Linked DNA regions of Homo sapiens. The protein of the gene in region 1 interacts with the protein of each later gene in a pairwise test. Each region holds a gene or a part of one and is shown on either strand. Other genes may lie near its edges.

Region 1 (8,017 bases):
CCAGCTGGTTACACAGGAACATATGAAACCACTCCTCAGAAACCTCCCTAGGAAGGAAGGGTGAGCAATACATCTGCCAGTGACTTCCTGCTTCCTCTCTCATTGGAATAAGTTTGTCTGCCCCACTAAGTGTTAATCCTCCTCCATTTCTCGGTTGTTGCCCAGCCTTTCAAGCAGCTGCTAGATAAGCCAGAGCCTCAGGTGGTAGACTTACAGGAACTGCAGCCTATGGCCCTTTGCCTGTTTTGTAAATAAAGTTTTATTGGCACACAGCCATACCCATGGACTTATGTATTGGCTGGTCTTCCTCTCTCTCTCTCTCTCTCTCTCTCTCTCTCTCTTTTTCTTTCTTTCTTTCTCCTGTTCTTGCTCTGTCGCCCAGGCTGGAGTGTAGTGAACTCCTGACCTCAGGTGATCTGCCCGCCTCAGCCTCCCAAAGTGCTAGGATTACAGGTGTGAGCCACTGAGCCCGGCTTTTTTTTTTTTTTTTTTTTTTTTTTTTTTGACTGGGGGAGGTGGGGGACAGGGTCTCCCTATGTTGCCCCAGGCTGGTCTTGAACTCCTGGGCTCAAACAATGCTCCCACCTTGGCCTCCCAAAGTACTGGGATTACAGACATAAGCCACTGCACCTGGCCATGTTTTGTCTATATCAATTTAAGTATCAGTAAAACCCACTTGGAAGGCTCATTCTGAATATTAAATGAGATAATGAATGTAATATTCAAAGCATAGTGCCTGCCTACACTCCATAAATTATTTTATTATTTAAATCTTATTTATTAGGCTGGGCGCAGTGACTCACGCCTGCAATCCCCGCACTTTGGGAGGCTGAGGCGGGCGGATCACCTGAGGTCAGGAGTTCGAGACCAGCCTGGACAACTTGGCAAAACGCCGTCTGTACTCTAAATACAAAAAATAGCCAGGTGTGGTGGCAGGCGCCTGTAATCCCAGCTACTTGGGAGCCTGAGGCAGGAGAATCACTTGAACCCGGGAGGCAGAGGTTGCAGTGAGCTGAGATCGCACCACTGCACTCCAGCCTGGATGATATAGTGAGACTCCATGTCAATAAATAAATAAACAAATCTTATTTATTATTTAAATTCAAATTATTGTGAATGGCAGTCTCCTTACTTAGGCTGTTTCTGCCATCCATCTGCCCCTAGCCACCTCCTCTACTGGATTCTAAGGGATATCTGAGTCTCACCATAAACCCCATTCTTTTGGTTGAGACATCTCGATGTCAGGGGACTCACCATGAAAAATAAACTGCCTGGGAGAGAAACTCAGGAACCGTCTTCCAGCAGTTGATCAAGTGCATCTGATCAAGTGGGAATGGTGGGTAAATGGTGGATTGTGGAATGAGAGAAAGCCAAGATGATGGAGCATTTCCAGGGAACAGATGCCCCAGGCAGCCCAAACTGTGAAAATGGAGAGCGAATTCAGGTGCTAAACTGGGAAGGAGGGAAAAACGGAGGAAGGGTTCATGCAAAAACAGATGTACCTTCATGTACTCAAAGACCGATTGTTTCTGCACACATACCTCAAAGTTCATATTCAGCACCGCCATCCCTGTATCTCCCATATCTACGAAACTTCCAGATGTTTCTGCCTCCCAAGTGTGTGCGTGTGTATTTGCTTCACTTTTCTCAGATTTGTAGTTGTACTGTTTCATGAAAAGTTTTGTCAGGCCAGGCATGATGGCTCATGCCTGTAATCCCAGCACTTTGAGAGGCCAAAGCGGGTGGATCACTTGAGGCCAGGAGTTCAAGACCAGCCTGGCCAACATGACGAAACCTATCTCTACTAAAAAGACAAAAAATTAGCTGAGTGTGATGGCATGTGCCTGTGGTCCCAGCTGCTCAGGAGGCTGAGGCATGAGAATCACTTGAACCCAGGAGGCAGAGATTGCAGTGAGCTGAGATCACGCCACTGCACTCCAGCCTGGGCAATGGAGCAAGACTCTGTCTCAAAGGAAAAAAAAAAAAAAAGTTTGTCATCTCAGTTCACCCAAGCTGGAGTTTGGTGGTGCAATCACAGCTCACTGCAACCTCAAACTCCTGGGCTCAAGTGATCCTCCCACCTCATCCTCCCCAGTAGCTGCAACTACAGGTGCGCAGCAGCACGCTCTGCTAATTTGAGATGTGTCGTCTTCCTCTAGGGACAGCAGGACTGGCCTTCCCTTGGGACCCCACAGAAGGCAGGCAGGAGGCTCCACTGCCAGACAGGAAGCAGAGCCTTATTTAACAACAATGAGCTGCAAACTCCACCACTTCAAAAGATGCTGCTCCTAGAGGAAGACGCTAGAGATGGGCTCTCACTATGTTGCCCAGGATGGTCTCAAACTCTTGGGCTCAAGTAATCCTCCTGCCTCAGCCTCCTTAAGTGCTGAGATTACAGGTGTGAGCCACTGGGCCCAGCCTCTCATACCAATTTCTAGTTCCCTCTCACTTTGATGACAGGGTTTTAAATTTAGTCTTACACTCATGCTTCTGCACCTTTACTCTGAGGCTCATCTTTACCATTGTCATCTGTGCCATGGCCCTAGGAATCTGCATTCATATCCATTTTCTCACTGATGAGATTCTGACTACTGAGCTTGAGTAGTGGGCACCAGAGTCAGCCAGAGCCCCCTGGAGAGTACTCCCAGGTTATCACGTAGGAAGCAGAGAGGCGGAGTGTGTTTTCTGGGGCATGAAACAGTGACTCAAATGCAGGGACCCCTTTGCCTGGCCCACTGGCCCTCAACCTTCAGGCAAATGTACAGACACTCTTCATTTTTATCTTTTAAAGCACTTTCCATTACACTAACCTCCAGAAGCAACTCTGCTTACCAAGGCAGAAGGAAAGAGAGCCACTGTCCAAATTAGATATTAGAATTCAAGCTTTTAAACATTAATGCTTGGGGAGTAGTTCTATGGTGCTTCTGACTGTTTTTACAATGGAGTGTGTAATCCAGCAGAGCTGTTAAGCTTTCTGAAGATGTCAGTCTGTTCTGACTTCTAGGAAGGCAGCTGTGGAGTGAACAGGCTGCGTTTATAGACGTGCCAGATCTGGACTCTTTTGAAGTGGTGGAGTTTGCACCTCATTGTTGTTAAATAAGGCTCCGCTTCCTGTCTGGCAGTGGAGCCTCCCGCCTGCCTTCTGTGGGGTCCCAAGGGAAGGCCAGTCCTGCTATCCCTAGAGGAAGACGGCACAGATCATGCCTTCCTTAAAACCGCAAAGCTGGTGGGGAGAACAAGTGAGGAAAGTCCATGAACACAATGGGGACACCTGCACCTTGGTTGCTTGAAAAAAACCCAGAGAGGGGCCCATTTTACCAGGAGAGAGGAGGAAGGGTGTCTCTTGTGTGGTCACAAAGAGCCAATGAGGTTTGTTGAAGATGATAAATATGATGGAGCTGGATTTTTTTTTCTTTTCTTTTTTTAAAATAAAGGCCATAATCTAGAAGGAGCACTTCTATTTTCAGCCTTGAAGAACTTAAAAAAAAAAATCTTAGTATGCTTACTGTAATCATTAACACAATATTACTTGGAAACTTACATGTATAGAATAAAGCAAGATTTTCAATGTATGAGAAAACATAGAAAAATTAACGCAGTTAAGAAAAATCCAAATAAATAGAACTGAAAGTTAAGGTGCAAAATGTGTCTGTGTGTACTTATGCTGAGTACTTTTCCCTTTATTTTTTTAATGTTTTTAAATTTTAAACTTAATTCTGTGTGTGTGTGTGTGTGTGTGTGTGTGTGTGTGTGTGTGTGTGAGAGAGAGAGATAGGGTCTCACTCCATTGCTCAGGCTGGAGTGCAGTGGTGTAATCTCTGCTCACTGCAACCTCCACTTGCCGGGCTCAAGTGATCCTCCCACCTCAGCCTCCCCAGAAGCTAGGGCTACAAGCACGCCCCACCACATCCAGCTAATTTTTGTTTTGTTTCGTTTTTTGATACAAGGTCTGGCTCTATCGCTCAGGCTGGAGTGCAGTGGCACTATCTTGGCTCACTGCAAACTCCACCTCCTGGGCTCAAGCGATCCTCCCACCTCAGCCTGCCGAGTAGCTTGGATCACAGGCCTGGGCCACCACACCGGGCTAATGTTTGTATTTTTAATAGAGGTGGGGTTTCGCCATGTTGCCCACGCTGGTCTCCAACTCTTGAGCTCAAGCGATCTGCCTGCCTCGGCCTCCCAAGGTGCTGGGATTACAGGTGTGAGCTACTGCTCTTTCTTTAACATTGATCTGTTTGTTTCATTCATTAATTGTAAACGAAAATCCTGCCTCTGTGGGATTATATCCATGAATGAGAGAGGCCATAAAAAAAAGCACTAATTGGACAACCATCTCTACTTAGGAAAAAAGCAGTTACAGGGATCAGTCACAGTTTATGAACATGTTCTGGCGCCTTAAAGGCATCAAAATCAGGATGTCAGAGTCCCAAATAGGAAAGATCTAGTCCACGAGGCCTGTTTCTCTAGAAGACCAGTAAAGATGGCAGGTTTGGCGCTCTAGGTGGCAGAGAAACCACCAGGAAGGCTTGGTGAATGGGGAGAAAGGTAACCTTCCCAACCTTTCTGCTTCTCCTTCCACTTCCCTCCTCCTCCTCCCTCTTCCTCTCCTCTCAGCCCTCCCTCTCTCTGTCCTCCTCCTCCGCCCGCCCAAGCATCACCTCGTGAGGCCTCGTGGCGTTAGCCCAGTGCTCTCGGCCCCCACCGAGCCTGGCTCTACTGCAGGCGCTGGGGGTTGGGGTGGGGGAGAGGCCCAGGGCACATGATGCCGCCCCCAGCCCGCCCAGCACATGACCCAGGCAGGCCGGCGGGGTCCTGGCACACCCGAGCCGCGTCCGCGAACACAGCCCATGGCCTCCCCGCGCCTAGGGACCTTCTGCTGCCCCACGCGGGACGCAGCCACGCAGCTCGTGCTGAGCTTCCAGCCGCGGGCCTTCCACGCGCTCTGCCTGGGCAGCGGCGGGCTCCGCTTGGCGCTGGGCCTTCTGCAGCTGCTGCCCGGCCGCCGGCCCGCGGGCCCCGGGTCCCCCGCGACGTCCCCGCCGGCCTCGGTCCGCATCCTGCGCGCTGCCGCTGCCTGCGACCTTCTCGGCTGCCTGGGTAAGGGCGCGCGCGGCCCGCGGGTTGGAATCTGATCAGCGCCTGGGTGAGGGCGCGTGGCCCGCAGGTTGAGACCCGACTGGTGCCCGGATAAGGGCGCACGGCCTGTGGATTTGGACCTGTTCCGTGATGGAGTGAGGACGAGAGGCCCGCGGGTTGGAACCTGCCCGGTGCAGGGCTGAGGGCGCGTAGCTGGCTGGTTGGGACCTGCTCGGTCCCCGGCTGAGGGCTTGAGGCCCGCGGGTTGGGACCTGCTCAGTGCTGGGGTGAGGGCGTGAGGCCCTGGGGTTGGGACCTGCTCAATCCCCGGGTGAGAGTGCGTGGCCCGCAGGTTGAGACCGGATCGATGCCCGGGTGAGGGCGCATGGCCCGCAGGTTGGAACTCGATCCACTCGGGTTGGAACTTGATCGGTGCCCGGGTGATGGCGCACGGCTAGCGGGTTGGGCTGGCCGTCTTAACACTTGAACCACAGAGAAAAGAGAAAGCGGAGGCTGTTCCCTAGGGACCGGATGGGACAACTAGGTAATTTTTTTTTTTTTTTTTGAGACGGAGTCTTGCTCTGTCGCCCAGACTGAAGTGCAGTGGCGCAATCTCGGCTCACTGCAACCTCCACCTCCCGGGTTCAAGGGATTCTCTTGCCTCAGCCTCCCGAGTAGCTGGGGGAGGCGCGCGCCACCATGCCCGACTAATTTTTGTATTTTTAGTAGAGACGGAGTTTCACCATGTTGGCCAGGCTGCTCTCGAACTCCTGACCTCAGGTAATCCACCCGCCTCGGCCTCCCAAAGTGCTGGGATTACAGGCGTAAGCCACCGCGCCCGGCCGACTAGGTAGTTTTGCAAACACATGGTCGGTAAAATTCCCATCCAAGGGACGTTGGGTTTTAAAAAATCCGTTTATTGTGTTTGTTATATGGAAACTTCAGATGGCGCAGTTAAGCAAAACCCAGACCAGAAAAGATTTCCTCATTTTTGCCCAACTGCACCAGGGAGAGACTAACAATTAACTTCTCTCTGTCTCGCTCTGTGTGTGTGTGTGTGTGTGTGTGTGTGTGTGTGTGTGTGCGCGTGTGTAAATTCTTTTCTATTGTGCACTATATATTCTCTCGAGTATTTTGTAAGCTGAAATCCCTTCCCTATCCAGGCTTTTTGGGTATGGTTTTTACACCACAGGTGCGCAAACTGCAGCCCTCAGACCAAATCCTGCCCGTTTTCTAGGGTCCACGAGCTAAGAATGGTTTTACATCCTACTTTTTAAAAAATTAATGATTTTGTTTTTTGAGACAGGGTCTCACCCTCTTGCCCAGGTTGAGTGCAGTGTCACAATCACAGCTCACTGCAGCCTCGACCTCCTGGGTTCAAGCGATCCTCCCACCTCAGCTACCCGAGTAGCTGGGACTACAGCCACACGCCACCATGCTAGGGTAAATATATGTGGGGTCTCACTATGTTGCCCAGGCTGGTCTCCAACTCCTGGGCTTAATTAAAAGATCACCACCCTTGGCATCGTAAAGTGTTAGGATTACAGGCGTGAGCCACCTCACCCAGCCCTAAAATGTTTTTAAAAATCAAAATTAAAAAATATTTCCTGGCATGTGACTATTACTGAAATTTAAATGTTAATGTCTACAAATAAAGTTTGATGGGAACGCAGCTATGTTGTTCATGTGCATTTGTGAATTATTCATGGCTGCCTTTACCCTACAAGGGCAGGGTGAATATTGGACTGAGAAAGTATGGCTCCCAAAGCCAAAAATATTAAGAATGAGTTTGCCAACATCTGCTTTAAACTATTATGTGACACTTTATACAGACCTCTCAGCTAGATTTGGCCATTCTGTTTAGCTTTTTGGAACATTTCCACCATGCGTAAATGCAGTCTATAATAGAAACACTTACAGTGAATCCCTGTACGTGGGATTCGTGAGGTACGGGTACCCGGCTCATCTGCTCCCCTCTTCACCCTCCTCACTGGATTAATGTGAAGCCAATCTCAGGCTCCATCATCCTGCCCATTCAGATCTCAGAGAGAGCCCTAAAACATAATAATTCTAAACATTTGCAACCCCAATATCATTATCACTTTATTTTTGAGACAGGGTCTCACTCTGTTGCCCAGGTTGGAGTGTGCTGGCATGATCATAGCTCACTGCAGCCTCGAACTTCTAGGCTCAAGGGATCCTCCTACCTCAGCCTCCTGAGCAGCTGGAACTACAGGCATGCATCACCACACTGGCTAATTTTTGCATTATTTTTTCAGAGCTGGAGTCTCACCATCTTGCCCAGGCTGGTCAAACTTCTAGGCTCAAGCGATCCTCCTACTTCGGCCTCCTAAAGGTGCGGTGGCTCACGCCTGTAATCCTAACTACTCAGGAGGCTGTGGTGGACGGATTGCTTGAACCCAGGAGTTCAAGACTAGCCTGGGCAACGTAACGAGACCCAGGCTCTACCCCCAAGAAAAAAAAAACAACAAAAAAAAGGCCCGTCATGGTGGGATGCACATGTGGTCCCAGCTACTCACCAGGCTGAGGCAGGAGGACCATTTGAGCCCAGGAATTCCAGGCTAGAGTGAGCTACGATCCAGCCTGGGTGACAGCCAAGACCCTGTCTCTAAAAAAGTAAGGTGTACCCAAACATCTTTTGAGGGTTAGTGAATAATACTTGCATATCCTTTAGCCTTTAGAAGGGAAGTGGATGAGGTTGCGAGCAAATAAGCAGAAGTCAGGAAAAGGCTGGGTGATCGGGACCCCTTACTGAAAAATAAGAAATTTCAATGCCCATGGGATAGGGCTTTTATTAAGCTCAAAGGAGTGATAAATGCTGAAAATTCTAAGGCACCGTACAGAAGAAAGGCATTGTTTTTGTTGGCAGTGGCTTGATAATGAGAAGATGTCTTGAGCTTTTTAGTGTTCACAGTTGTCG
Region 2 (7,277 bases), on another chromosome or scaffold:
ACATTACTCCTTGGAGTCATGGCTAATTTCAGGCCTGGAGCATTGTAGGTACAAGATGCTCTAGAATAATTTGCTTACCAGAGAGAATGTGTGTTTTAAAAAATGTGTATATGAAATGGAGACATAAGAACCAGCTTGAAGGTGTACCATGGGCAAATTCTGGAACCATTGGAACACAAAGATAATTAAGCACATCAATGAGTTATACACTATCAAACAATGGAAAGCCTTTACTCCATACCATTAATATAGATAGATGATAGATAGATAGATAGATAGATAGATAGATAGAAAAAATGGAGGATTTTTGCTAATAGTAGAATCCTGAATATTGGCTAATAAATTTAAAAGCAGTGCTGAAGTTGAAAAATCATAAATTTGTAACCATCGACGATGCCAACTGTAGAAGAAATTGTGATAAGAGGTGAGGTATTTGCATAGTCTTAAAATGTCTCCATGTAGACAGTTTATTAAACAAGGGGAAGAAATAATTATACAGTGGGAAAATTGGACCACATCTGGAGTAGGTGATTAACATCACCAACGTGAGACAGATGGTCATGATGTGCCTCCAGATGTGACACCATCTCAGAAAGATGCATAATCACCTATGTGGAATTTTGGCTAATAGTGCATTACCTGGATCTAGTCATGAAGAAATATTAGATACACTCAAAATGAAGAATGTTCTATTAAAAAAATGAGGAGGAAGAGGAGGAACTATATCCTCCAGAGCTGTCAAGCACATAAAGACACATATGTACAAGGTTATGGAAATATTTCAGACTAAAGAACCATGAAAACTAAATGCTATTTGATCCTAGACTAGATTCTATTTTGGAGAGGAAAAATACTGAGGATATTATTATATCTAATTTTAAAAACTGATATACAGTAGATTTGATAAAAGCATTATATCAATATAGAGTTTACTGAAGTTGAAAACTGTTCTGTGGCTATATGAGTCTATTCCTATTCTTAGGAAATACACACTAAAATATTCAGGGGTAAAGAGTTACAGTCTATGCAATTTACCCTTAAAATGGCTCAGACTGGGAGAGAGAGAGAGAGAAACAGGATACAATGTAAGTAAGTTTGGGTAAAATATATATTCATGTTTTTTGTATTGCTTTTATTTTCACAACATCTCTGTAAGCTTAAAATTATTGCTGAATACAAATTTAAGAAAAAATAATTTTAAAATGTGTACCTGGTAAAGAAAAGTTCTTCTTAGCAGCTGAGCTTAATGGTTTCTCACATTTTCTCTCATGACATGGACTTCATACAACAGGCATGGATAAGGTAAGTGGTGGTTTAGATGCAATTTGAAAGATTCTAGCTATTATTTACATACTCGGTTATCAGATACTTACCGAACGACTGTGTGCCAGACAATATGCTATGTTGCATCTGTTTGCTTCTCACACACTTTGCCTACTAAAGTGTGTAAGAATGAGAATAAATTATGGGAAAAAATAATTTACAAACATAAATTATTTGTAGTAGCAAATTATTTGTAGTAAATCTGCTGTTCCCTCCTCACCTGTGTGTATTAGACTCTCACTTGAAAACCACTGGCTGAGTTGACACATCTTGAGCCACTTTTTTTCTTTGACTTGAGACCCTAGACGAGTGATGTTCCCCTGCCTTATTTCTGCAACTAACCCATGCTTCTTAATAATAAAATATATGCTTTGTCACTTATGGCTGAAAAAACAGCAAAATGCTCCAGTTTCCTTAAAGATGTAGCTTCGCTTTGCAATGTCATTAATATCAGCATTCTGAGTACTGTTGTTAATCCCTGAAGAGTCCAGTGGGTCACCCAATCCTCCCAGATGGTGACTTTGAAATTGTGTACCTTAGATTTGTTATATAGGCTCTGAGATTACCTGGCATTATGTCTTGCCTTCTTATGTCAAAAGACCAAACTGGTATTGTCCACTTTAAAGAAACTCTCAACCCACTGTTGATTATCAGAGTGCAATGGAAAGAACTTGGACTTTGGTACTTGATAAAGCTGGGGGCAGATTATCTCCACCACTTTTCAATGGGAATCAATAACCAAAAGATGAATATCTCTGATAATGTTTCCTCCCTTAAAAGTGGGAATAATAAATACAATCTTCCTCAGGGGATAGTTATTAGAATTGAGTGAATTAATGCCATACAAAGTGTTTGACATGGTGTTTTGGATACGGTGATTACTTTAAAAAGTTAATCATGAATATTACCATAGAAGAATAAACCTAATTTCTATTTTCATAGCTGGAAAACAGAATTCATCTTTAGGATGAGACTTGCCTTGCTTCAATTGATTCTGGATGTAAGACCCTGAGATTATGGTTTTGAATAAAACAGGGAAATGAATGAAACAGTAAAACCACTCTGCACAGTACAATAATAAAAGTTGGGGTGTAAAACAATGACAAAAAGGAAAAAAAAAGAACAAGTCAAGGAGAAAGGATTACAAAAGAGAGGAAAGTTTTTCTACATGTTAAGGTGTCACAGGCCTTTTAGGAGCTGCGATGTCTAGTGTTAAATTTTGAGTTGTCTGCCTTGCCACAAGTCAGTGCCTATGTCTTCCCCAAACTCCTGGTAAATTTGTGACTTGATTGAGTTTTTTTTTGTTTGTTTTTGTTTTGTTGTGTTTGTTTGTGATTTTGTTTTCCTAATGCAAATTTATGTGAGTGAAATGGGTTTCATGACTGAGTCAGCTATAAGCAGAAAAGAATGAATCGATGTTTGAATGCAAAATGCAAGCAAGATGAAAACATTTGTAGGATAAATATTTAGGAGTTAGAGAAGATCATGAGATGTAATCTCTGATGAAGAACAGAAAACTTAAGGGATAATGAGAGGGAGGCTTTACCTATGTGCTGTGTCCTTATTACAGTTAAATGAATGAACTTACCTCAAAGAACCCACTGCCTAGAATATTTTAAACAGGAGAAAACTAAAACACTAAAACGTAGGAAAATAGTATCAGTCCACAGACTTATATCTGAAATTCCACAATACAAAATGTTCTGGAAATGAAATTAATTTTTCTCTTTTAATGGAAAAAACTGACTTTACTCACCATTAGGTTGCCTATTGCCTGTATTTATTACCATGATGAATATATTCATATATTTCACTAAAGCTGCTACTGCTGCTTCTTCTGCTTCTGCTGCTGCTTCTTTCCTCAGAGTCTCTCACTTTGTTACCGAGGCTGGAATGCAGTGACACAATCATAGCTCACTGCAGCCTGAAACTTCTGAGTTCAAGTGATCCACCTGTCACAGCCTCCCAAGTAAACTGGGATTACAGGCATGAGCCACCATGCCTGGCTCCTGAAGCTAACACGTTGAATTATAACGTGCTGACCAGTGTCAGCTAGGGTCATTGTCGATATAAGTATATACAACACATATTCTTGGTCAACTCAGAAAATTCTGAATTCTCAAATACCTCCTAGGACTTTGGATAAGAGACTGTAAATATGAATTCAGAAAAAAAATTAAAAGTGAAAAGAAAGAGATTACCTTCCAGTGTATTTCTAAAGCTGAAATTGGCAGCTTTATCCATGGAACCAGATTCATATTGGGTCAAACTCAGGCAAAATTCTACATCAGCTGAAGAGGGGAGCCTTGGGGTTCTGGATTTGTCATGGTTTCCAGGATTACGCCGTAAAGGTCCCTCGGGCGTTCCATTGCATAAAGACTGATGGCTGTTGTACTCCTCCAATCGGCTACAGACAATCTGTACAAAACACCCTCATGTTAAACAAATTGTCACCACCACTGAGTCAGTAGGAGAAGGCAGAAATGTTGGAACTCCTAATTATCGTTGTTAGACTTCTCCTGAGGAGATTACTACAATCATGTGTCTTTAATGACAGGGATATGTTCTGAGAAATCCATCATTAGGTGATTTTGTCATTGCGTGAACATCATAGTCAGTGTACTTGCACAAACCTAGAATGGTATAGCCTACTAAACATCTTGGCTGTTTGGTAAAACCTACTGCTCCTAGGCTACAAATCTGTCCAGCACATTACTGTACTGAATACTATAGGCAATTGTAAGATAATGGCAAGTATCTATACATCTAAACCTATCTAAACATGTAAAAGGTACAGTAAAAATACAGTATAAAATTTTTTTTTAAATGGCATACTTGTATATACAGGACACTTACCATAAATGGACCTTGCAGGACTAGAAGTTGCATTGGGTAAGTAAGTGAGGGAATAAGGAGTGAATATAAAGGCCTAAGATACTACTCTACACTACAGTAGATTTTATAAACACTATATATATATCGGCTACATTAAATTTATAAAAATATTTTTCTTTTTTAATGATAAATTCACCTTAGCTTCCTGTAACTTTTTTACTTAATTTTTTAAAACTTTTTGAGTCTTTTGATAATAGCACTTAGCTTAAAACACATATTGTACAACTGTAGGAAATATTTATTATATCCTTAGCCTATAAGCTTTATGCTATTTAATTTTTTACTTATTATAAACATAATTGAAATTTCGTTAAAAACTGAGACACAAGCATACACACTAGCATAGGCCTACACAGAGTCAAAGTTGTCAATATCATTGTCTTCCACCTCCACATCTTGTCCCACTGGAAAATCTTCAGGGGCAATAGTACACATGGAGCTATCATCTCTATAACAATCTCTATAAAACATCCAGGCGTTTTGTGGAACACCTCCTGGAGAGCCTGCCTGAGGCTGTTTTACAGTTAACTTACTTTTTTATAAGTGGAAGAAGTACATTCGAAAATAATGATAAAATATAGATAGTAAATACATAAACCAGTAACATAGTTGTTTATTATCATTATCAAGTATTATGTAGTGTACATAATGCTATGTGCTAGACTTTTATACAAGTGGGATTTCAGTAGGTTTACACCAGCATCACCACGAAGACATGAGTAATGCATTGTGTATAATATTATGACTGCTATGATGTCACTGGGTGACAGGAATTTTTCAGCTCCATTATAGTAGTGTGGGACCTCTGTCATATATGTGGTCCATCCTTGACAGAAATGCCATTGTGTGGCATACTACTGTATTTTAGAATTAGCTTTTTGAAGGTTACAGAATGAGCCATAAAAGTTAAAACCTGGAACAGGATTCTAGTGTTGCATCTACCACTTAAGAAAATGATTTAACTGTCTAGGCCTCATCTATCAAATGAAGATAATAACAACTACCTCACATAGTTATAGAAAATAAAATATTTATTAAACACCTATTATATATTAAGCACTGTGCCAAGTGCTGAGGCTGGGGTTGGTAACAATAGAGATAGGCATCTTACTGTATATAAAGCCCATAGCACATGGCATGACCAACAGAAAACACTCAATAAACAGTAGCTTTAAAAACATTAATCTATATTATATTCAGAATGTCAAGGACTAGAAATAGTTTCATTTTGTGCTTTTTGTTCATAAAATATCCTATTATTGTCCCTTTTTTTTTTGATGTGCAGTACAATACTCGTGGTTGATTGTTTTTTAAGAAAAGAAATTTCTCTGATCCTTTAGCTAGAACCAAGGTGATTTTCATTGTAGAAATACCGTCTTAAAAATAAGAATTTCTCACCTTTCTATAAGCAAAACTTTTTAAGAAAACACGGCACATGCATTGTTTCATTTACATCACAAAACAATACATTTCGCTTCACAAATAAGGAAAATGAGACTCAGAGAGGGTAAGTGGCATTTCTCAGGTTATATGGCAAATAAATGGCAGTGTTGTGATGGCAACCCAAGTTTTCCAACTTCATCTTTAGTGTATTTTGTGCTTTTATAACTAGTCTAGCAGAACTCAACATTAAAAAATTTTTAAAAGTAGGTTCTAGGTTAAAATAAAATAGAGAGTTCTAGTCCTGTATCTCAGTTGTGGCTGACAACAGGATGTTGTTCTTTGTTGGTTTCCCTAAACCTTGATCAAATTTTTCTAAATAAACTGTCTTAATATAACTTGGTTTGGGTATCTATTTCCTACTGAGATCCTGACTGATGCAAACATTATTTCCTACTGATCTTTCCCTTTCCCTCTCTTCTATAACTTCACTGGCCTCTTTGCCCTTCCCAAAACTCACCAATCACTCTTATGCAACATGTTCCTGTACTGGTTATTTTTTCTGGGTAGACTGTTTTCCCTTGATACCTGCTTGGGTTATTCATATCTTCATTATCTTAATGAAATCTACACTAAACATCTATTTAACATCATATTCAGCCTTACCCACTTTAGCAGTGTTGTAGAGCTGGTTAGCACTAGCTAGCAAAAGTTCAAAGTGTGTAACCCTTCTCAATATTAGAATGTTCAGCAGTATCCCATCATTAGATGGAAATCTACCATTGTCAGTATTTACACCACAACAATTGGCAAATCAGAATCATCTCTCCCTACTTTCCCACTCCTCCATTGAGAACAAGTTATTAAACATTTACTGTACACCACTAATTTCTGCTTTATCTGTGCACTTAGCACCTTCTAACAAACTATGTAATCAAAAGAACTCTCATAGAATGATTGATTTATTGTTGCTGCTTTTCAAACCGAAGTTTTAAAATGTCTATGTGTCAGGCATTATACCAGAATACAAGAATACATACTGAACACGATAAACATAGTTTTTATTTTTATAGAGTTTACAGTCTAATAAGTATGGTCATGAAGATTTAATGTCTATACCATATTGCCTTATTCATTGACTTAAACATTTTTAATAAGTATTAGCATTTTAAGTATTGAGTACTTTATGTAACTTACCTTCTAGTGGAGTAGGTCTAGGAAGTGTGAGTGGGTGAGACAGTAAAACAATATATATAACTTATTATATTTTTTAACTCCTTTAACTTTTTTAAATAAAATATTATATATAATGTTTTACTGTCTCACCACACACACTTACTAGACCTACTCCACTAGAAGATAAGTTACATAAAATACTCAATACTTAAAGTGCTAATATTTTTGTAAATGAATTTTTAAATCAATGAATAAGGCAATATGGTGTATATATTTAATCTTTATAAACATACCTGTTAGGTGATAAACTCTATCAAAATATAAACTGTATCCTATTCACTATGTATTATTGTGTAATGGTATGGTGCCTGACACAAAGACATTTGAAAACTTTGGTTTGAAATTCAATAACAGTAAATCAATTATTCTATGAGAGGAGTTCTTTTGATATTTCCATCTCATCAATGAGAAAACAGGCTTATAGAGGTTAAGTGGCTTCATCA

The links.
Region 2: the proteins of GPR143 (region 1) and TYR interact in binary tests that used the Homo sapiens proteins (3 or more experiments, as listed by UniProt).

The regions. Positions count from the first base shown.
Region 1 is NC_000023.11:9,762,648-9,770,664, reverse strand, and holds the start of GPR143 (G-protein coupled receptor 143), read left to right. Parts: upstream 1-4,817; 5' UTR 4,818-4,847; coding exon 4,848-5,097; intron 5,098-8,017. UniProt on the Homo sapiens protein: Receptor for tyrosine, L-DOPA and dopamine.
Region 2 is NC_000011.10:89,187,666-89,194,942, reverse strand, and holds part of TYR (tyrosinase precursor), read right to left. Parts: intron 3,742-7,277; coding exon 3,525-3,741; intron 1-3,524. UniProt on the Homo sapiens protein: This is a copper-containing oxidase that functions in the formation of pigments such as melanins and other polyphenolic compounds. Catalyzes the initial and rate limiting step in the cascade of reactions leading to melanin production from tyrosine.